4 separate regions of the Homo sapiens genome follow, and regions 1, 2 and 4 are each reported to be linked to region 3. Evidence: microRNA targets listed by miRTarBase, many of them from high-throughput screens and not tested one by one. Region 3 holds a microRNA gene; each other region holds the end of a gene's coding sequence.
The links. The annotated mature microRNA hsa-miR-6718-5p reads UAGUGGUCAGAGGGCUUAUGA and lies in region 3 at 2,529-2,549, opposite strand. An mRNA with a match to its seed (bases 2 to 7 or 8) in the 3' UTR can be bound and repressed. Matches are read on the target gene's strand: a 7mer-m8 pairs with bases 2 to 8, a 7mer-A1 pairs with bases 2 to 7 and ends in A, and an 8mer does both.

Region 1: the mRNA of PPIE is a reported target of hsa-miR-6718-5p. Seed matches in the 3' UTR shown: 7mer-A1 at 2,964-2,970.
Region 2: the mRNA of NDUFA12 is a reported target of hsa-miR-6718-5p. The part of its 3' UTR that is shown has no 7-base or 8-base seed match.
Region 4: miRTarBase lists TSPAN12 as a target of hsa-miR-6718-5p. Seed matches in the 3' UTR shown: 7mer-A1 at 4,124-4,130.

What each region holds. Positions count from the first base shown.
Region 1 is chr1:39,752,075-39,757,580 of GRCh38, reverse strand. PPIE (peptidylprolyl isomerase E) reads right to left here. Exons shown (of 10, transcript NM_006112.4): 9 at 4,529-4,671; 10 at 812-4,294. The coding sequence ends at 4,226. It overlaps BMP8B (bone morphogenetic protein 8b), which reads left to right. Exons shown (of 7, transcript NM_001720.5): 7 at 1-399. Among named protein-coding and RNA genes, the nearest start is that of PPIE, 16 kb to the right of the region's middle.
Region 2 is chr12:94,967,448-94,972,953 of GRCh38, forward strand. NDUFA12 (NADH:ubiquinone oxidoreductase subunit A12) reads right to left here. Exons shown (of 4, transcript NM_018838.5): 4 at 3,886-4,173. The coding sequence ends at 3,993. Among named protein-coding and RNA genes, the nearest start is that of NDUFA12, 33 kb to the right of the region's middle.
Region 3 is chr18:3,882,406-3,887,911 of GRCh38, reverse strand. It overlaps MIR6718 (microRNA 6718), which reads right to left and starts at 2,559; the gene lies at 2,480-2,559. All of the region lies in intron 3 of DLGAP1 (DLG associated protein 1), which reads left to right. All of the region lies in intron 1 of DLGAP1-AS3 (DLGAP1 antisense RNA 3), which reads right to left. It overlaps LOC124904238 (a long non-coding RNA gene), which reads right to left. Exons shown (of 4, transcript XR_007066270.1): 3 at 1,993-2,119; 4 at 615-1,128.
Region 4 is chr7:120,783,685-120,789,098 of GRCh38, forward strand. It overlaps TSPAN12 (tetraspanin 12), which reads right to left. Exons shown (of 8, transcript NM_012338.4): 8 at 3,636-5,213. The coding sequence ends at 4,908. Among named protein-coding and RNA genes, the nearest start is that of TSPAN12, 72 kb to the right of the region's middle.

The DNA of each region.
Region 1 (5,506 bases), not on the chromosome of region 3:
CAGGCAAAAGAGGAATGCCCAGCAGTCTTGGTCCTTGCGGTGCAATACTGGCCTTGAGGCCAAGTCAGCAGGGGATTCGTAGTCACTAACTTCTAACTGAGGCAGGGAAGTAACATGTTCTGGAAAAGGTCCAAAGAAACAGGAATAGAGGCAGTGTAGCAAGAGGCAGATTTTTGGTGCCAAATAGATTTGAATCCTGGTTCTGCTTCTTCCTTTGTAGAGTATGATATTGGTTCTTTCCTCCCAAAGCTATTATAAAGACTAAATATGTACACAAATCTTTGGGATGTCTGACATATAAATGCTTAACAATAGGTATTTGCTGGTATTATTACAAATGAATTTGCTTATTTTTGAGCCACTTCTATGTCTGTCCATTAAACCAAAATGTGTTCTGCAGGTGATGATGTATTTATTTCAGAGCTGTGCTCTTTCCTAAACCATCTACACATGGCATCCCTCAGAGGGCGGGACTTGTATTCTTATAGCCTTTAAAGGCCTAGCAAGTGTCACTTGTGGCAGCGGCTGTGAAACTTTGCTGTGTTCCCAGACAATGGGATCCCATGTCCTGCTGAGAGAGGTCTGTACCCACCAGGTGTCTTGGGTGGCAATTTGCATGGGGGAACTGCCCATCCAGGTCAACTGCTTGGCCCCCTTTTTGAAAGGAACCCTGGATGGGCACTTGACCCCCTTTTTCAAAAATGTCTTTCACTTCTCAAAAAAATAATGCAGTTTTGGAGGAAAGTGGGATATATAAAAAATAAAATACAATTCAAATCACTACAGTCCCACAAGTCAAATAAACACACTATTAATATTTTTGTGGCTTTATTTCTAGGCTTTTTTTCTTAAGATATACAAATACCTATGCTTACATATTACAGATATTTTTACAAAATTGGGATCACACTGTACTATATATGTTTCTTTGTGATGTGCTTTTTCTACTTTAGTTTCCCATCACTGAACTCTACAAGACTCCATTTTCAACAATAAAAAGTTGGTTCTATAATTCCTTCTTCAGAGGTTGCCGTGAGGCTGCCATGACTGCAACAGATGCTGGGAGCACCTGGAGGCGGCTGTCATGCTGTTGGAGAGGACACTCCAACAGCCACAGCACTGATCCTGGGCCTGCCATCCCTGGTTTCAGCCTTTGTAACCGTTTCAGGGCCAGCATGTGGGGACTCAGATGGGGCTCAACTCTGAATGAGTTAGGGGGGAAATGAATCAGCAAAAGGAAGCCCTGTGCCCAGTCCTGGTGCTGGTCCAGCAATGGGAATGTGGAATGGGGAGGCCAGTTGGGACAGGAGCCACACAGTCCCAGGGAAAGCCGCTTTGCTCTCCAGGCTGCAGGAAAGGACGCCCACAGAGCCACTGGCTCCACTTCCCAGAGAGGTCAGAGTTTTCCCGAGGCAGCCAGGTGCAGCTGCTGCATGGTGCGTAGCCGAAGCAGGTGGCCAGGCTGTGGGGCATGCCACTGCCCAGCTCTGGGGCTCCCCTCCCTTCTGGCCTGGAAGAGCAGGGTCTTGTCTCCTGTGTCTCTCCACACAGGTCCTGGCCAATCATGGGGACCATGACTGTGTCACTCCCCAGGGCTGTGGACCCTGCCGCCACAGATTGAGGCTAAAGCCTAGTAAACCTCCCAGGACTCCATTACTACTGAAGAGAGACAGGCTGGGCTTCTAATCCCAGCTCTGCCAAACCACCCTGTGTGACCTTTGGCAGTCACGCCAATAAAGCCTCAGTTTACCTGTGCAGGGTTCCAGTGTGCATTCAATAACATCTGTGAACACCCAGGAGGAACACTGGGAGAGGAGTCCACACCCAATGGCTCCAAACCTGCTGAGCTTTCAGAACTGCCCACTGGCCTCCACCTCCCCAGAGTATCAGGGAGGAACAGAGTGACAAGGTTGTCACAGGAGTCTGTCCTTTTATGGGAGGCTGGCTGTGCTTTTTCTACACACTCTCTCCTGGTTCTCGTCCAAGCACTGAAGTCAGTGCTATCATCCCCAGCTTCATAGATGCCTGCCTAACACCTGTGACTGACCTCTGATGGCCATTATTTGCACTCAGAGAAGGGGCTGTGCTTTGAGGGAGGGTCTCTTTTGGAAGCTCCATAGGGGTGAGGGGTAACCATGTAGTATATCCCAGCTACATGGAGCCTGAACTCAGTCAACTGTAGCAGCTGGAGCTCACAAAGTCCAGTCGGCACATGGGAGCCAGAGGTAGGGCAGAATGCCACCATCCCTCAGCAAGAGCTATCCTAGGGTCATGAGGACCACCTAGCCTCTCCTGCCTCCTGGCTCATCCAGATCTCAATCCAAGATGCAAAAGCTCAGCTCAGTGGATTCTGAATGGTCTGAGTGACCCAACCCACAGGAGGTGTCCAACAGCTACAGGACTCAGTCCCTGCTAAAAGCCTTCAGCAGATGAGATTCTTTATAACCGCCTGGCTGACCAGCATCTGGAGGGGGAGTGGAGAGAAGCCAGCTCCAAGAAGTGGCTGCACACAGGAGAGCCAGACTGTGAGCTCAGCAGGGGGTGGGACCATTTGTTCTCTTCAGTGGCTGGCAATCCTGTTTTGTAAAGGCTCAGATAGTAAGTATTTTAGGCCTTGGGACTGTGATGGTCTATTTTGTGTGTCAATTTGGCTAGGCCATGGTATCCAGTTTTTAGTCAAACACTAGTCTAGATGTTGCTGTGATGATGGTTTCTTTTTTTCAAGACAGGGTCTCCCTCTTGTCACCCAGGCTGGAGTACAGTGGCATGACCATGGCTGACTGCAGCCTCAACCTCCCAGGTTCAAGCGATCCTCCCACCTCAGCCTTCTGAGTAGCTGGGACTATAGGTGTGCACTACCATACCTGGCTTTTTTTTCTCCCCCTAGAGATGGGGGTCTCTACATTGCCCAGGCTGGTCTTGAACTCCTGGGCTCAAGTGATCCTCCTGCCTCAGCCTCCCAATAGTGGTGGAATTATAGGCATGAGCCACCATGCCTGGCCTATTTTTTAGATGGATTAATATTTAAGTCAGTAGAGAGTAAAGCAGATTACCCTCCATAATGTGGGTAGGCCTCATCCAATCAGTTGAAATTCTTAAGAGAAAAAAGACTGAGATCACTGGAGGAAGAATTCTGCTTCCAAACTGCCTCAGAGCTGAACTGCAACATCAGTTTTTTTCCTGAGTCTCCAGCCTGCTGGTCTGTTGTGCAGATTGCAGACTTGCCAGCTCCTACCACTGCTTGAGCCAGTTCCTTAAAATAAATCTCTTTCTACATATATACACACCCTATTGGTTCTGCTTCTCTAGAAAACCCTAATACAGGGACCATAGCCTGTATTGTGTCTATAGCCCCTTACGCACCTCTGCCACTGCAGTAAGAAACCACCATGGACAATATGTAAATAAATGGACGTGGCTGTGTTCCAATAAAACCTGATTCATAAAAACAGGCAGTGGGCTGGATTAGGCACATGTAGTTTGTTGGCTTCCTGTCTCCTGACAAATAGGCATAGTACTTGGCACAGAGAAGGCACTTTGAGTTATAAAAATTTCATTTTTTAAAATCTGTAGGGTGAAAGTGAACAAATAAACAAATGAACCACTGAGAGTACACTTGCTGGCTGTAAGGCCGGCAGCTGGGTTTAGGAGCAGAGGCAGCAGAAGACCGGAGCTTTCCAGTCTTTAATTTCCGTTGCCCTGACATCGATGCCTGGTGTGAAGATACATCACCTGACATCTAAGGGGATCGGCCCAAGGGAGGAAATGAAAGCTGTGAAAAAGATGCTCTGCTCTCCCCACTCACCAGCCTGCCTCAGAGGTCCAGCTTAGCCACAGACACAATCTCTGACAACTCCCAAGAACTAGCAGGAAGAGCAATATAAGAACTAGGGTTTATTTTAGCAAAGAAAACACGTAAGAGCCACACTGGTAGTCCCAGGAGAGGCCCAGCAGCAAATGCTGAGAAAAGCCAGTGGCTTTTTGCACAGCCTGCCCATGGTGGAGGGGAGCACCTGAGCTGGCTCCTGGGCCCACAGCTGTGCCTGGGAATAGTCCAGGCTGTGCCTGCAGAGGAGCTGCTCCAAGCAGACCCTGAGGAAGGGCACATATCCCAAATGCTGCTTGCTTCAAACAGGCACCCTCGGTGCTGCCTCCTCTGAGGCTGGCAGTTCCTTCCTGGATATGCAGGGTCAAGAGCGGAGGGGGAAGCAGAGAGAGTGCCGCCTCACACGTACTCCCCACAGTCGGCGATGATCACCTTCTGCTTTGGCTTCCCGTCCTTGCTGCCCTGGGCCTTTGTGGCAGAATAGAAGTGAGGGAGTAAGGCCGGAGACTAACAGTGGTTTAGGGATACCAACCCCTGCCTGCCCATTTGCCCACTTCCACCCCGGAACCTGGGCAGCAGCAGCCCCTCCCGCTGGACACAGCCCCTGGCCATCTCTCTCAGGCCACAGAGACTCTCCAGCCCTCACACAGGGCTGTGCTCCTAGGGCCTGGGTAAGGAGGAGGCCCATTCCTGGCCACATACCTCAATTTGCCGCAAGACATCTAGGCCTTCGGTGACCTCTCCAAACACCACATGCTTGCCATCCAGCCAGTCTGTCTTGTCACATGTCAGGAAGAACTGAGAGCCATTGGTGTTTGGGCCAGAGTTGGCCATGGATAGTAGACCTGAGGGAGAGAACAACCATCAGCTCCCCGAACCCTGGCTACCAGCCCTTAAAGGACGTCTGTGCAGGCTGTTGACAGCCCTTCAGCCAGTCAGGCTCAGACTCGGGGATGCACAGATCACATGCAAATGCGGCCACCTTATCTTGGATTCAGTTAATAGTCAGTGAAATGGTAAGTGAGGTGTTTCAATCACTTTATACTGGTCTGTTCTTTCATTAATTCATTTATTTAACAATTAAGTGTCTACTTGACAACCAGGTCCCTGTTAAGCCCTGGGAACACTGATGAGCAGAACATAGTCCAAGCTCTGGTGGAGCTCACAATCAGTGGAAAAGAGCCATTCAAAATGACAGCTATGACACAGTGAGGCCTGGTAACATGGACATTTGTCACGTAAGAGAATGTACATGTATATGTGTGTGTCTGTGTGTGTATGTGTACATGTATGTATGTGTGTGTGTGTCCACAATGACTCCTAAGTTTCTGATCAAGCGGCTAAGTGGATGGTGGAGTCATTTATTGAAACAGGGAAGAGGAGGAGGAAGAGTTTAGGGGAGAAGGCCAAGAGCTGTTTTAGACATGTAAAGTGTGAGATGCTCGTGGGATATCCAGTGAAGACAACAGGCAGGCAGTTGGACAGGAGTCTGGAGCTCAGGGAGCCATCAGCATGCAGATGCCAGTCTGCACAAACTTAACTCAGAGATACCGCTGAAAGCCCTGGGACCGGGTGTGACTGCTTAGGGCACTGCTTCTCAGTGGGGTTGGTGTCCTGTCCCTAGGAAACCTTTGGAAATCTGAATTTACTTTTTTTGAGATGGGGATCACTCTGTCACCC
Region 2 (5,506 bases), not on the chromosome of region 3:
AGATGATCTGCCTGCCTCAGCCTTCCAAAGTGCTGGGATTACAGGCGTGAGCCACTGCACCCTGCCCTAAATCTAATCAATACAGTTTTGCTTCATTATGTCTACATGTAGAGTGCTTTTGTAGGTGGACAGTGGCTGTTTAGTAAATGCTCAATACACAGATTCTTTACTGGAATAATTTTGTTCAGGCCTTTTCCCAAAAAGTAACAATAAGTACTATGAATAAAATAAAACAAGGAAATTCATACAAATAAACAATAATAGGAAGTTCCTGAGGAAGCTACTTTAGATTAGATGGACACAGAACATTCTGTTGAGGAGGTGATACTTGTAAAGTAAGATATGAATGATACCAAAAAAAGGAGCAACACAAAGATGTTAATATTCTAGGCAGAAGGAAGAGCAAGTGCAAAGACCTAAGACGAGAATGAATCCAGTCTTTGAAGATTAGACAGAGGCTTGTGTGGCTGACCTGTAGTGGGTGATGCAGGGAGAAATGAGAGATGATATCTGAGAGGTAGGTCAGTAAGGCACATCATAAACACAAGCAGGGACTCCCACAGGCAGTTCCACTGTCTTTTTTTTTTTGAGACGGGAGTTTCACTCTTGTTGCCCAGGCTGGAGTACAATGGCTCACTGCAACCTCCGCCTCCCGGATTCAAGTGATTCTCCTGTCTCAGCCTCCCAAGTAGCTGGGATTACAGGCGCATGCCACCACACCTGACTAATTTTTCTATTTTTAGTAGAGGCGGGGTTTCATCATATTGGTCAGGCTGGTCTCGAATTCCTGACCTCAGGTGATCCGCCTGCCTTGGCCCCCCAAACTGCTGGGATTACAGGTGTGAGCCACTGCACTAGGCCTCTTTTCTTTTCTGTGAAGTGAGTTTCTCCACCACGGACACTGTCCTACATATGACAAGGTAGAAAGCATTCTAATCCCATGAATGCTGATGTTGACCAAGGCATGATAGGCAAGGAAAACAGACCCAAATTCAGAATAAGTGCCTATTCCCACAAAAACAAATCATCTCTCCCTCCAATATGGAAGAAGTCCCGTGAAATGAACTTGCCGCATTGACGATACTGGGCTTAGATATGTGTTTTCTGTTGGGATCTTCAAGAAGTAGGCACTGAGACAAAGATTTGTTCCCAGAAGGTGATCTCAGTAATCATCTGGCTACTTTGTTCTAAATCTTTTTGGATTACAGCTCCAAGCCTCAAGGTTCATTTGCCAAGCTCCTCCCAAAACTTTTACACTAATCTTCCATGTTGCTTTTCTCCATCTCTGACTATCTAGCCAGTGACTGGTTACGGTTACAGATCCTCACCTCAGATCATGTTTCTCTCAAGTCAAAGTACATGATAAAAGACAGTGCTTGGAATTCTGCCTACAAATTGAGATTTGCCCTCTACTGTCCTTCAAGACCACCCCAAATATACACAGTACATTTCTAGCTGATAGTGCCTATTGTTCATGGTATCTGTAAGCCAGGTTTGGTTTTTTTCATTTTCAGTTAACTGGATAATAATGCTCCACAAGGGTAAAGGGACAGATTGGTAGGGGCGAGGTGTGGGAATAGAGTAGTTAAAGGCACAGGGTCGGGAGAAATCTGTTCAAAGGAAATGTGTCTTCATGGCCTGTCTGGTCCCACCTGCTAGGTGATGGAGTGCTGCTGGAAATGGTCAACTTTATGAGTAGATGGATTAAATAGCACCTGGTGTCCCATAGCCTCCAACATCCCCAGAAGCAAATTAGAACCGTTTCTCAAAAGGAGAATAGTAATCTTCCAGAAGGGGGTATGACCTTGCTCCAAAGTCCTGTGGGCTTCCATTGTGATTCTCCTGGAGAAATTTGTCTCTGACTTCAATAAGTCTCCCAATCAGCCAGATAGACTTTGAGAGGGCTGAGCAGCAGAGCTGCTTGGACTGCAGACTGGGCCACCTACAGGGACTATTTTTGCTCTGCCAGCTTTTCAGGTCACCAGGTAAATAAATAAGTGCAAAACACCTGTATGTTATATGCTGTCTCAAAAGTCCAGGGCTCAAAAAGCCAAAACAGCACACTGAATAGTCTCTTGAAGGCACTGAATTCAACCTGATCCAGCTAAGTAAGGGATACTCAGGACATAGGGCTGTAGTAGACTAGTTTCTTATGAATGAGGAAGTTTCAAAATAACTGGTTTTTGCATGTTGGTTCTTTAGCACAGTTGTTCAAAACATTGGCTGTAAATGGAACCACAAGGTGGGTGCAGGGAGAGGTTTTAAAAATTACTGATGCCTGGAACCTGCCTTCAGAGATGCTGGTCTGATTGCCTGGCTTCTAGATTATAAAAAAGCTAATATGCAGCCAAGGGCAAAGACCATTGTTCTAGTTCCTTCTAGATGTCCCTATACCAATAGGCAGGGTCCCACTCTATCCCTTCATTTTCATATAGGAAACCAAGGAGGTAAGCTAACTCATATAATTACCCTGCGTTTCACTTATAACCCGAAAGGTATCTGAGACAGGTCTCAATCAATTCAGAAAGTTTATTTTGCTGAGGTTAAGGCTGTGCCTCTGACACAGCCTCAGGAGGTCCTGACAACATGTGCCCAAGTGGTCAGGGTACAGCTTGCTTTTAGACATTTTAGGGAGACATGAGACACCAATCAGTATGTGTAACATGTACACTGGTTCCGTCAGGTAAGACTGGACAACCTGAGATGGGGGCTTCCAGGTCATAAGTAGATAAGAGACAAAAGGTTGCATTCTTTTGAGTTCTTGAGCAGCCTTCCACTGAATACACTTTAGTCCGGCTCAGTGAATCCGTATTTTTAAATAAACAATAAGGCAGAGGAAGCAATCGGTATGCATTTATCTCCAGTGAGCCTCAGAGATGACTTTGAGTTCTGTCTGTCCTTTGTCCACAAGGAATTTCAAGGAAGGAGATATGTAGCTTTTTATCTTTGTAGCTATTAATATCTTATTTAGGGATAAAATGGGGGTCAGGTTTGCCTGACATAGTTTCCAGCTTGACTTTTCCCTTGGCTTAGTGATTTTGGGGTCCCAAGACTTATTTTCCTTTCACACACTTGATGCCTTGAGTTGAGATTTGAGAATCAAGGTTTATTCTCTCTTAAGTCATTCAATGCCCTTGGAAACAACCACCTGACTCCATAATCCTAGCATTTCTTTCCATTGCTATTAAATTGTTCCATGGTGGCTGCTAACCAGTCTCCAGGGGCCTTATCCTAAGGGGGCTCATGGATTCTGGTGACTAAAGGCAATAGCCTGCTAAGCTCCTTGATCACTGGAGCTGTGAGCTTTCCATCTGGAATGCAGAGAGATGTGGGCCTTTCACCCTACCCAGACACAACAACCAGTTCCAAAGATCCCGCATCATTTCCTTGAAGGTCTTTTGCCTACCTCTGGTACCAATCTGGATATTAAAGACTTTTTTATTTGTAAGCAACAAAAAAAATCTGTGACCCTAGTTAGCTTAAAGAACTAAGAATATATTGGAATAGAGTCTAGGATAGTTTACAGTTTAAAATGAACCATTAAAGAACCAGACTCAGGAAATACGATATCTCTGATAACCTCCTTAGAGAGCGTCAATAAAAGCCACCCAGTTTTGATGACTTTCAGCCTTCGTGTCTCTCCATTCAAGTTCCAAATTCCCATGAGAAAATCTGGCTTGGCTTAGGTCTTCCCATATAATGAGCTATGGTAGTAAGGTACGGTCCCAAAGCACAAACAGGACCACAGAGGCTGTTTCCAGAAAAGGGAACTGTAAACCAGGCAGCTACCCCAATACAAGTCTACTTCAATCACCATGTTTGGAAGCATCTATTTTGCAGTTGGAAAACAACAAAGTGAAGGGCAAAAAGGCACGAAAGACATTGTTTAGTCACACAATTTTAATTGTGAATTATAGTGAATGGTAAACAGTAAAAGAGTAATTACATGAAAAGCTCCATATTTTGCATGTTTCAACTGTTCTTCATTGTCTTTACTTGTAAGGTGTTGAAGGTGGGATCCACTCCTGAATCTTCTTTCTAGTGGTAGAATAAGGTACATATTGTTCTGGGGTGCCAGTCACGTTGAATTTATGGTTCGTCCAAATGAATTTACGAGCAGTAAGTGGTTTTGTTGTTGGAGGATCATCAGTCATACTGTGAAGCCAACGATGCCTTAAAGAGGGGAAAAAACCCAAACAGTTATGAAGAGGCAGTACAGCATAGTGGAAGGACGGTTAAAAACGTAGCCCTGGAACTATTTTGTTGCTTGGGTTCAAGCCTCAACTCCATCAGTTACTAGCTGAATTCTTCTATGCCTTAGATTTTTTCCATCTGAACATCCCTACTCCTCAGGGATGGTATAAACATAAAAGGAGATAATAGACATAAAGCACATAGAAAAATTCTTGTGTGTGGCAGATACGCAACAAATGTTAGCTACCGTTCTCATTACTGTATTTTTTTTTCTTCGTTTTCTTTCTTTCTTTCTTTTGGAGACAGGGTCTCACTCTGTCACCCAGGCTGGAATGAAGTAGCACTATCATGGCTCATTGCAGCCTCGAACTCCTGGGCTCATGTGATACTCCTACCTCAGCCTCCTACATAGCTAACACTACAAGAGCATGCCACCACCATGCCTGGCTGACTTTCAGAAGATTTTTGTAGAGATAGGATCTCACTATGCTGCCCAGGCTGATCTCAAACTTCTGAGCTCAAGGGATCTTCCTGCTTCAGCCTCCCAAAGTGCTGGGATTATAGGCATGAGCCACCATGCCCGGCCCATTACTGTATCTTATCAAATCTGACACTATCCATTTTCAGACATGCCATGATTTTATCTACCTCTAAGAAAGAAAAGATGCTACCAAATAAATTATGGCCACTACTGATTATAATATGTATCCTAATTTTAGACGTGGAAATGCATTTTAGAACTGATAAAAATACAGTATTACTATTAGGTGCTAGAGGCCGATTCTGGATTTTCAGTATGCTCAGGTTACTCTGGCTCATGAAGGTTTAGTTTAAAACCCATGAGGCTCCTGCTGAGAAGAGCCTGATGCATTGTAAATTCAAGCATGTGAGTGTAAACACTAGAGAATATGCAACTTGTTATATTAAAAAATTAAATCAGGGCCAGGCACAGTGGCTCATGTCTATAATCCCAGCACTTTGGGAGGACGAGGTGGGAGGATCACTTGAGGCCAGAAGCTCAGGACCAGCCTGGGCAACATAGTGAGACCCTGTCTTGAGAAAAAAGTTAAATCGACCCCCAATTCACAAATATTTCAGTCATAAGTGCTTAACAATTTAAGAGGATATGTTCCAGAAATCAGACCTAAAAGCTGGATACCTGGAGTTGAAAGGGAAGAGACCACCGATGCTGCTGCTAATGACAGGGAAAGGAGGAATCAAAGTTTGTGGGACAGAGTGCAGGAAGCTAAGCTGAGGGGTTTACATGGGAAAGAAGGGAAGACAGAATTTGTCCCAGCCTCTAAGACCTGGA
Region 3 (5,506 bases):
TGGTCTCGATCACCTGACCTCATGATCCGCCCACCTCGGCCTCCCAAAGTGCTGGGATCACAGGCATGAGCCACTGCCCCCGGCCGTTTTCTGTTTACTTTTACGCAAAAGTGCCATGGTTTCATTTTTTAGTAGTAAGAACCATTTTCTTATTTTAAAAAGTAATAATTTAAAATCATCAGCCTGTTGGGCATTCATCATTCTCAATCTCTGTAGAATTGGGATTTATTATAAGTAAACGGGAAAATTAATTTTGTTCTGTCTAAAAAAAAATGTCATGTATGTGTTCAGACTGTGGTTGGAGCATGCATGTGTGAGCAAGGAGGTCTGAATCAGGAGACACTGCCGTAGCTGGCCAGGACATTGTCCTCCTCTCTTGGTATACTCCTTCTTTTCTTCCAGTCTTCTCTCATAAACTGCTCTTGCAAGAAATCATTGCTTCTTTGAGATCTTTTTGCCCCTCCCCACTCCCACATGTATTCTCTAACTACAGCTAGAGAAATCTTTAGCACAAGTGTGACCATGCCACTGTCTTGTTTAAATTCCTCTAATGGATTACCACCACCTGCAAATACAGTGCTGCATCCTGACATAGCTTCACCAAGGGTCTCATGATTTTGCCCTGACTACCTGTCTCACTTAGGAACAGGTGCAGGTGCAAGGTTCAGTACACAAAATTACAGAAAGCAAAATAACCGCGAGCTATTTTGTCTCCTCTCTCCACACAGACTCCCTCTGCAGAGCCCTTGGCTAAAGTTGTCACGTGGTTCAATAGCAAGGGACTCTGGCTTCCTATGGGGCCAGCGCAGGCCCTTCCTTTACTTGATAAGATAAGGAAACAAGATAAAGGTCTATTTTTCTCTCGACTAAACAAAATGCAGAGGTGCACATCCAGGGCGGATATGGCACTCCGCTGTAGGTCAGAACCTTTATCTTTTGTTTCTCTAATCCTCAAACTGTAACTTCCACCTCATGGGAAAGATCACTATTCACCCAGCCCCCACAGCTGCGTTCCAGCCAGAGAAGGGGTAAAGAAGCGTATGCCCCTCACTTTAGAGATGTTTTCCAGAAATCACACATGCCGTTTCAAGTTATGTTCCATTGGCCAGCATAGTCACCCAGGCACATCTAGGGAGAATGGAAAATGTAGTCATTGTTCAGGGCTGCTTGTACTTTTCAACAAGAAAATCTTTTCTTTCTCTTTAGTGGTATGTTATAACCTGGCATGGACAAGCTTCTGGCAGGTGGAGGGATGCCAAAAAGTTGACTTGAGAGATAGAGAGTTAGAAGGATGATCATTTAGAGGCTGGGAAGGGTAGTTGAGAGGTGTTGCTAAGGTGGGAGAGTGAGGATGATTAATGGGTACAAAAAAAATAGATGCAAGTCCGAATGAATGATAAGATCTAGTATTTGATAGCACAATAGGGTGACTATAGTCAATAATAATCTAATCGCACTTTTAAAAATAACTATAAGAGTATAATTGCATTGTTTGTAACAAAAAGGATAAATATTTGACGTGATGGATATTCCATTTACCTTGATGTGATTATTAAACATTATATGCCTGTATCAAAATATCTCATGTACCCCAGAAATATATACATGACTAGGTACCCACAAAAATTCAAAAAAGAAATTTTTAGGACAGCTTGACCCTGAAAAGATTCATGGAGATTTCCTCTTCCTGATGTCTCCTCAAACAAGAACACAGTGCCCCTGTTCTCCTGGGCAGGGTCCACCACTTTCTTTCTAAAGTAAGTCGCAATTGCCTGCCTGTCCATCCTCATGGGGTAAGACAGAGGAGGGCCTTCAGTATGCTCTTATTTCTGCATGTAAAGAAAAATCAAGAAAAGCAGCTCTAAATAAAGACATGCACAAAAATCAAAATGGAATAAGGACTTGCCAGCTTTGCAAGACTATTTCCCCTTTGTCAGCATCTTCTAATATGTGGTGTGTTTGTGTTTTCCTTGGGTCTAATAAATTACCTACCTTGAAAATTTCCTTTACAGTGCTGGATTATTCTTGTTTTGGTCATCATCTGGACAGTGATAATTCTGCTCCAGGTGTTGGAACTCTGGAAAAACTGTGCATCTCACACTCTGAGCTTGTCTCATGGCTGCAAACAGAGTCAACAAATTATCCAAGCAAAAAAATCAGGAGACATGGTACAATGGTAAAATTGAACTTAGAAGGACAATAAAACAGAATGTTGAAGTCACAGCGAACAAGAAGAAATTAGAGCTAATCACTGGTAGTCACAGAAACCCTCATGAAGACATGCTGACCACAGTCCCCATCCTTGCTCAAAGAACAAGGCCTGAAAGGCAATTTCCCTCTCTATTTCCAGCAATTGTTATCATTACTTAAAATCTAATTGAGAGGCTAGCATCCTCTTTTTTCAAGAATGCATAGAAGAATGAGAATTGTTATTTATCTCTTTTCATGTTTTTTTGTGGCTAGGTCATGAAGTGCATACATTGAATCCCTAGTGGCCAAAAGGCTTATGACATGGCTCTCACAATATATCATAAGCCCTCTGACCACTAGGGATTCACTGTAGGCATTTGGTCGTCTTTGCAGCAGCAGGCAAGGAAGCTTTCTAATGATGCTCTTGGTCACACCACAGGTGGCAGCAAGTGGTACCCATGGATACAACTTATAAACATTAATTAGGAGAGGGGGGAAAAAAGAAGTGACAGAGATAAATGTGCTGGAAAGGGAGTTTAAGAGTAAGGCAAGAGGAAAATGAAGAATGAGAGAAGGAAGAGCAGGACCTCCATAGTAGGTGCCACCAGCAATTGTCTACCCATTGCCAATGGCCTTAGGATTTTAGATCATTTGCCCTTGCTCACCAAGAAGTCACAGAATGTGTTTTCTTTTATAATCACAAATTGACCTATTTTCATTTTAAAATGACAAGACGATAGAAGAGAGTGTAAGATTTGTTACAGAAAGGGCCATGGTATTAAGTTGTTTATTTGGCCTTGACCAGAAAGATAGATTTAGCATTTAGAAATGTTTATTGCCATTTTTTATGACCTTCTTTTCCCACATCATAGAGAAAAAAGATCAAGATCTCAATATCTCTTTTACAAATACAAGTAAGGAAGGAGGAATGTTAGCTTATTTATTCTGGATGCAATTTGTTACCCTCCAAGAAAATAGAGGTGCTTGTCCTGTGCTGAAAATAGCCCAGTTAAATTTTAGTAAAAAACACACTGTGTATGATTAATTTACAGAAATTATCATTGGTTACATCATTTAACTTAAATCATCATTAGTGGCCTTAAACAGCTCTTCGTTTGCTCTGCTTGTCCTCAGGTAACGTCATCTTGCATGGAATGTTGCTCACATATTAAAGATAATTAAATACTGAATACCTGATTAAAATAATCTTGTATATTTTGGAGTAAACATGTATAATTCATGTTTTCAGCTCTTGCCAGTTTCACATTTTATTTAGCAGAAAATATCTACCCAAGATTCAAACTGCTTGAGAAGGAAAGTTCGAAACATTATTCCACATCATTTTATATATTGAGATTCTACTATATGTGATCATAAAAGTTAGTATGTGTCTATAATCCTAATAGAATCTTGTTTTTGCTTTTTATAAGTCTGTATTTGAAAGGCAAAAATGTCCTCAGTGGAACCTGATTTGTAGAGAGAGACTTTCTTATGCAATGGATTTTTGCATCTAAGTTAGTTTGTGCCACAGTTTTGCTAAAAACACATACTTAACCCTCTTACATTCTTCCTTGCCACAGCCTACTTTTAGGACCATAACTTCATACAAAGCAATCCCAAGGTTTTCTGTTTCATTAGTCTGTCACCAGTGGACACGTTTTTTACCTATCGGTTCTTCCTTATCCACAGGTATCATAAGTCCTGAATTCCTTTTTTGTCCCTTCAAGAGTCAGTTTCTCTCTCTCTTCCAGGCGGATTGCCCTCTGTCTAAGCATCCTGTAGTCAGCAGGTTAGGCAAACTCCCCAGACTTTACTTCCAGACAGGTAGAACGGCAGAAGGTACGATATTGCCCAGTGAGTTGCAGAGTTAGAAGTCAAAGGTATATAGGTCAGAAGGAGTGTTCACCAGTCTGCTTCCTGCCTTGCTCTGAAGACTGGTCTTTGGAATGGTCACCCTGATGGAATGGTCCCCCCAACTATTGGGCATCTTTCCTTGGCCTTGCCCAGCCTGGCCTTTGCCACACAGTCATGTTTTCATTAAACAGATGCTACTTGAATCACACTATGAACCACTTTGGGAAATTTTGCATTAATGCATTAAGTAATTGAGTAAATATTCTACTAACTTAATTCCCACTATCCACTAGGATAGCACTTTGCCAAATACTAGGTGGGTGAAACATAGTCCCTACCCTTAAGGACGTCACAATTTAGTAGACTAACAAATTTTGAGTGACTGTACTGATTAAAACCTTTCATCATTATTCCTGAATGGTCAATCCAGAAACTGGGAGACAGGAGGAAGAAAGGAGCTTCACAAAGCATGGATAGAGATTGCCAACATTGTCATGAGCGCTCCCAGATGCAGTATGTCTCATGGAATAGACAAGACCTGGCCTCTCAAAAATCTTTTTTCATGAGGTCCAGTGTGGGTGTTTTATATGTTTGTTTGTTTTTGTTTGTTTGTTTGTTTGTTTTGAGATGGAATCTTGCTCTGTCACCCAGGTTGGAGTGCAGTGGCACGATCTCGGCTTGCCGCAACCTCCGCCTCCTGGATTCAAGCAATTCTCCTGCCTCAGCCTCCCAAGTAGCTGATATTACAGGCTCCCGCCACCATGCCCAGCTAATTTTTGTATTTTTAGTAGAGACGAGGTTTCACCATGTTGGCTAGACTGGTCTTGAACTCCTGACTTCAGGTGATTCGCCTGCCTCGGCCCCCCAAAGTGCTAGGATTACAGGCGTGAGCCACCGCACCCAGCACTATATGTTTTGTTTCTTAATTAAACCACATATCTATCTCTCTAGGAATATCTGAAATGACATTAGTGATATTTTAGAGAGTCATGTTGGCTTTCCAAGATGACTCTTTATATGGCAATTTTTGTATTGTAGGAAGTCTTGAAAGAAAATCAGGCTGTCAGAAGGAACTTGGTCAGGCACTGACTCTAACACTGTTTTGGAGTCCAGAGAAAATACTCTGCCCTGATGGAATAGCAGCCTCTGTTAGTTACTAAAACTCCGGAAGATCCGAGCTTGGAAATGGACTGAGATACCCTACATGGGATATGAATGAGTGACTTTTCCCTGAGGCTGAGCTATTAGGTCTGGGGTCCTTCACTCATGTCCTCAAGAACTTTTCAAGGGCCATCCTTTGGTCATTTTGCCATCGGCTATTAACTTTTTTTTTTTTTTTTTGAGACAGGGTCTCATTCTGTCACCCAGGCTGAAGTATAGCGGTGCATTCACAACTCATTGCAACCTCAACCTCCTGGGCTCAAGCAATCCTCTCCCCACTTGAGTAGCTGGGACTACAGGC
Region 4 (5,414 bases), not on the chromosome of region 3:
AGCCAAAATTTTGAATTGAGCTATTGCTTCCTTGTAGTCCTCATGGTAGCCAGGCAAGGCCTAGGGTGGCCAGTGGCCCCTGAGCTTCACGTATCCTAGCGTGTCTTATAAATAACATATACATGAATGAGTTGGGAAGCTCTGCCTTTCTTACAACAAGGAACCTCTGGAAGTGTTCGAGTAAGGAAGCAGCAAGATAAGAATAAAGTTTCACAAGAATTAATCTGAGTGATAGTTAACAGATCAGTGTTGCCTGGGGCTAGGAGAGGGGAATGCAGGATTTATCACAGATGGGCAAGAGGAAACTTTTTGACACGATGAAAATGTTCTAGATCTCGATTGTTGTTGTGGTTACATGAGTATATATAGTTGCCAAAACTAATTAACTATATACTTGAAAGGGGTATATTTATTAGGGGTGTGTGTGTGTGTATGTGTGTGTGTATATATATATAGTATGTTTTTATATATATATGTATATAAAATCTCAATAAAGTTGATTAAAGAACTTAATTTGGGCTGGGCATGGTGACTCATGCCTGTAATCCCAGCACTTCGGGAGGCTGAGGTGGGCGGATCATGAGGTCAGGAGTTCAAGGCCAGCCTGGTCAACATAGTGAAACCCCATCTCTACTAAAAATACAAAATATTAGCCAGGCGTGGTGATGCACAGCTGTAATCCCAGACATTTGGGAGGCTGAGGCAGGAGAATCGCTTGAACCTGGGAGGCAGGGGTTGCAGTGAGCCGAGGTTGCACCACTGACTTCAGCCTGGGTGACAGTGTGAGACTCTGTCTCAAAAAAAACAGAACTTAATTTGCCTGTGTGTGTATGTGTGTGTACAAGATATTTTAGATAATTTATACTTGTTCTTGGGAAATAATAGTAGGAATGAGGTTAGACAAGAGCATCATTTTGATTTGGCCTGGTGATATTGATTTACATGTAGGAGAATTTGGCTTTTCTAGGTAAAGAATCATCTGAGCTTCACCACAGGCTGGTGAAGATACCATGCCACAAAATGGGGAAAGTGGAAGTATAGCTCTGCCACATATTAGCTAAGTAAATGTATTCAGTCTCTTGGAGTCCCTCTTGTTCATTTGTAAAATAAAGTGGGGTGCCTGCAAATTGCAAATGAGTTGTGAAGAACAGAGAAAATAAGTGTAAAGCACCTCCTACATGTGCCTGGTACCTAGTACGCACCCCTGAAAGTATGAGGTAAAGAGTGATTGCAATTAACACATAAAAATAGAAAAAGAAAAGCTTTCAAGATCAAGATGATACCAAAGATTCTCCTATATATGTTTCTAGGATGTGAGGAAATGAGAACTCAGTTCACAGGGGAGACGAATCTGCTTGTAAATCTCAGGATGACAATAGGAAGGGGGTTGGGTGAAGCAACATAGCAGTTGGCAGTGTTTTAAAAAAGGGGCAGCTTCTTTGCCAGAGAAGATTCAGTAGTATAGTGATTTCTTCTTTCTTTACCTCCCTTGACTCATCCACAGGAGAGGGAATTCAGACAAAAGGAAGCTTCTGTGGCAATCTATTTAAGATTCTCCTCATATAAGATTTGGTTCCCAGCCCATTTTCTGTCAGGCTTCCTGAGATGGGAAAGCAATGCATAAAAATTCTCAGGCTTGACAGTGAATTCTCCTGAGCTCCAGACTGAAATTTACAGCTGCCTGTAGACATCTCCATCTGCATGTCCTGCAGGCATCTCCAACTCTGTGTCTCAGACCAAATTAATTACCCTCTCATACTCGTTCCCCTCCAGTCTTCCATCTAGGTTAATGCCATTGCCAATTTGCCAGGCACAAAATCCAGAAATTTCAGTACTTTTACTTCTTGTCCCACACTCCCTGAGGTCTAGCTACTGCCAATTTTTGTGGATTCACCCTGTTGTGATCTGTTTTATGCACTCTGTTTTTTGACTTCCATTGTCCTGGTGAGGATCCTTATCCCTCTCCAGGACCACAACAACAGCAATCTATTCAGTCTCCTGCCAGGGCCTGCAGTGTGTACAACTCTCAAGTGCTCCACTTACCTAGGCTGTGGTCAATGGTGGCCCACCCACCCAGGAGTTGCAAAATAAGTATAACTGTCTCCTGGTCCCCTCTTTCTCACTTGGCTAATCCAGTTAAATTAATGAAATATTCATCATTTCTCTTTCTGAAATTGCTTCGGTGACTTTACTTTGGGCCTACAGAACAAAGCACCCAAACTCAAATTTCATTCATTTCCTGTCCCATGGCATCTCTTCAATCATTCTATGATCTAACCACATTGAACCATAAGTCATAACTCCAAAATAATGTATACTTTTTAACCTCAAACTCATGGCTCATGGAATATTTTCCATGAGCCAGCTAGACTCCACTGCTCCTTCTGATCCAGCTTGAACGCCATCTCCTTGGCATAGCTGCCTTAATTCCACTCTACTCCATCTCTTATTCTTAAGAAGGGCCCCACTCACTGCATATTCCCTTATTTATTTTTCCTGTGGTTAGCACAAGTGTCTCTAACCCAGATTCTACAGTGTTTAAGGACAGACATCATCTCTTGTTGCCATCTCTGAGTCTCCAGGGCACTTTGAATGGACTTTTAACCAGTCTAAAAATAATCTTCTTAAATTTCTACTTTTAAAAAATGGTGATTTTTTTTTTTAACCAAAGAAAGCTTTTAAAAATTCCCAAAGAAACAGTTAACAGTTTTGTTTGCAATGTACCCAAATAGTGAACTCCCTCAGCTCTACTGCATTAAATATACTTTTTTAACTCCCTTGCAGTTTTATTATTCCAGGTGCACTGCTACCATAAGAGGCTTTGTGAGCTACTGCTATAAATGTCATTCATTCCCATTAAGCAAGTGTATTATATACAAAACGATTGTCTAAATTTATGTTGACCATTCTAGAGGGTAGTGTATCAGGTAATACATCAAAATATCTGAGGTCTAAAAATGTAGAAAGCAACTTTTATAATTTGAGGACTTTTTATTTTACTGAGCCCAACATATTATATGCTTGCTCTTGCTGTGACTGTAAGACATATCAAAAAAAGCAGCAGCTAAATTTGACCATTATACAAATAATTCAAACAAAACTCATACATAGCTATCTCAGTTACGTGGGTATTTTAGGTGAAATTACAGGGATTTGGGGTATTGAGGAAGTTATTAAAAGGGATGCTTTTGGCTCTGATTGAACAAGTAATGTACTCAGTTTTCATTAAAATCTATGGAAGATTTTAAACATGGCAGTCAATTTCAAGGATTATATTCCTTAACTCATTTGAAGAGAATTTGAAATTAACTAAGAGACTCATAGTCTCTTAAAAATTAATAAGTTATAAAACTGTGATATGCAAACATTGAAAAGATGAACACAAATGGGCATATTTTTATATTATCTCAAACAAGTATATTATTTAACATTTAGGTAAAAAGCAAAAGTGAAAAATGGGCATCTTTTTGACTCTTCTCAGTGAAAATACATATTCTTATAGGTCCATTCCGGAGTTTGGAAATCAATATTAATACTTTATGCAATCATTCTTTCTCATGTTTTTCTCCCCTTGACAATCTTCTCAAGTGGCATAAGTGCTTGTAATGTATTAAAAAGTAGGCAGAGACAAATCATTACTCTCTAGAAAATATTTATTGACACATTTTAATTTTCTTTCCATATTCTGAGAAATAAACAAAATACACAAAATACAGTAAAATGCACTTTTCCCATTTCAAATAAATATACTATACTCTTGTAAAAAAATTTAATAATCTGTGTAATTTGCCACAGTATATTAATCAGTGAAATAAAACAAAGAATCTCTAAATTGTCACATGTTTTAATGATTCTCACAAGCATTTTTCTGGAGAAAAAGAACACTATTTTCTGTAGAATTTATATTGACTTGGAGACTATTGCTTCTTGTTTGGAGAAGGCAAAGATAAGCTTTTTAAAAAGTGTTTAGTGTCAAAAAGAGTCTTCATTTGGGAGAAAAACAGCATACAAGTCCTTTCTGAATCAACTAAGTTATGTGCAAATTTTCTTATTAATACTTCCTAAAGACCAGACTACATTCTGAATAATGATTCCTATGTATCACACTGGTAATTTTCAAAATTAGTGGTTAAGTATTTAAATAACAGTTATATGTGTAATATAAGCCCAGGACAGAATAGTAAAGCTTTATTAACAGGAAAGGCTAAAAATAATGATGCTATACAGGACAAATTTTCCTTTTCATAATGGTTATTCTTAACATTATCAGAACTGAAATCGACTGAATTATACAGATTTAACACAGACTTATATACAAAAAATCCCTGATCAGCTTAAGACAATGTGTTAGCTTGCTCTTTTAAGTGGTAAGAATATTTTAGTAACCAGCAAAAATCACATTTAGGTAGTCACCAATATTGAAAGTTTTCTGATATATAATTTATTTAGCATCAGAAGAATAGATCGCTGAGTAATAAAAGTTATTAGTATTTTCTAACTTCCTATGTTAGCATTTAATTAGTACTTTATATACTAGTTGGTAGAAGTAAATCAACCTTTACTATGGCTCCAGTCCCACCATATGTGACTCGTTTGCATGGATGCGGAAATGCTAATCAAACCATGCTGCCTCAAAACATAACTGTGTTCAGTAAAAGTCATACACAGGCTACACAGTGGGTATGACATCTGTCTTCAGCATTTTAAGGGCATCAATTATTGTCCAGGTGGTGACTTATGACATGAAACTTTTCCATCCTCATTTTAAAGCATAGAATAGTATATGCTTAGGTGTTATTTTATGGCAACATTTTTATTTCTACATATTTCTGAAACACATAGTATGTACTCAAAAATTCACAAGTCCAGTAAAACAAGTTTGTGGTTTTCTTCTGTGACATTTCTTTTTATAACTCCTCCATCTCAAAGTGTGTATTAAAGCTGTTTGCCATGGATGTGTGTTCAAAGATTCTTGACAGGCTTGGTTTCAACAGTTCTACTGAGGGACATGACAGGTGCTGAGAGTTGTCATTCTTCAAGGACATCATTTGGTCTGTCCCCGGCTCCCTTCTATCATAATACAGAGCCCAGAGCAGAGTAATGGTGAGAATCATGGCCAGGATTTGTGTCACCCCAATGGAGATTCCCAGAAACCTCAGCACCTGCAGTTGTTTGGTTCCTCTCAAAAAGGAATACATTTTCTTCCCACAACCCTGTAAAAGAAATACATGGTCAACATTACTTTAGATATGTTACAGAAGGCCAAAAATAGTTAATGAAAGCAAACAATCTGTATCAGTTAATGAAATCAGACTAACTGGGATCATAAAGTTTAAGACAGTGGTTCTCAGGGAAAGCTGATGAGAAGAAGGAGAGAGGGAGGTGTGTAGCTTTTGAAAAGCCTGTCCAGCTGA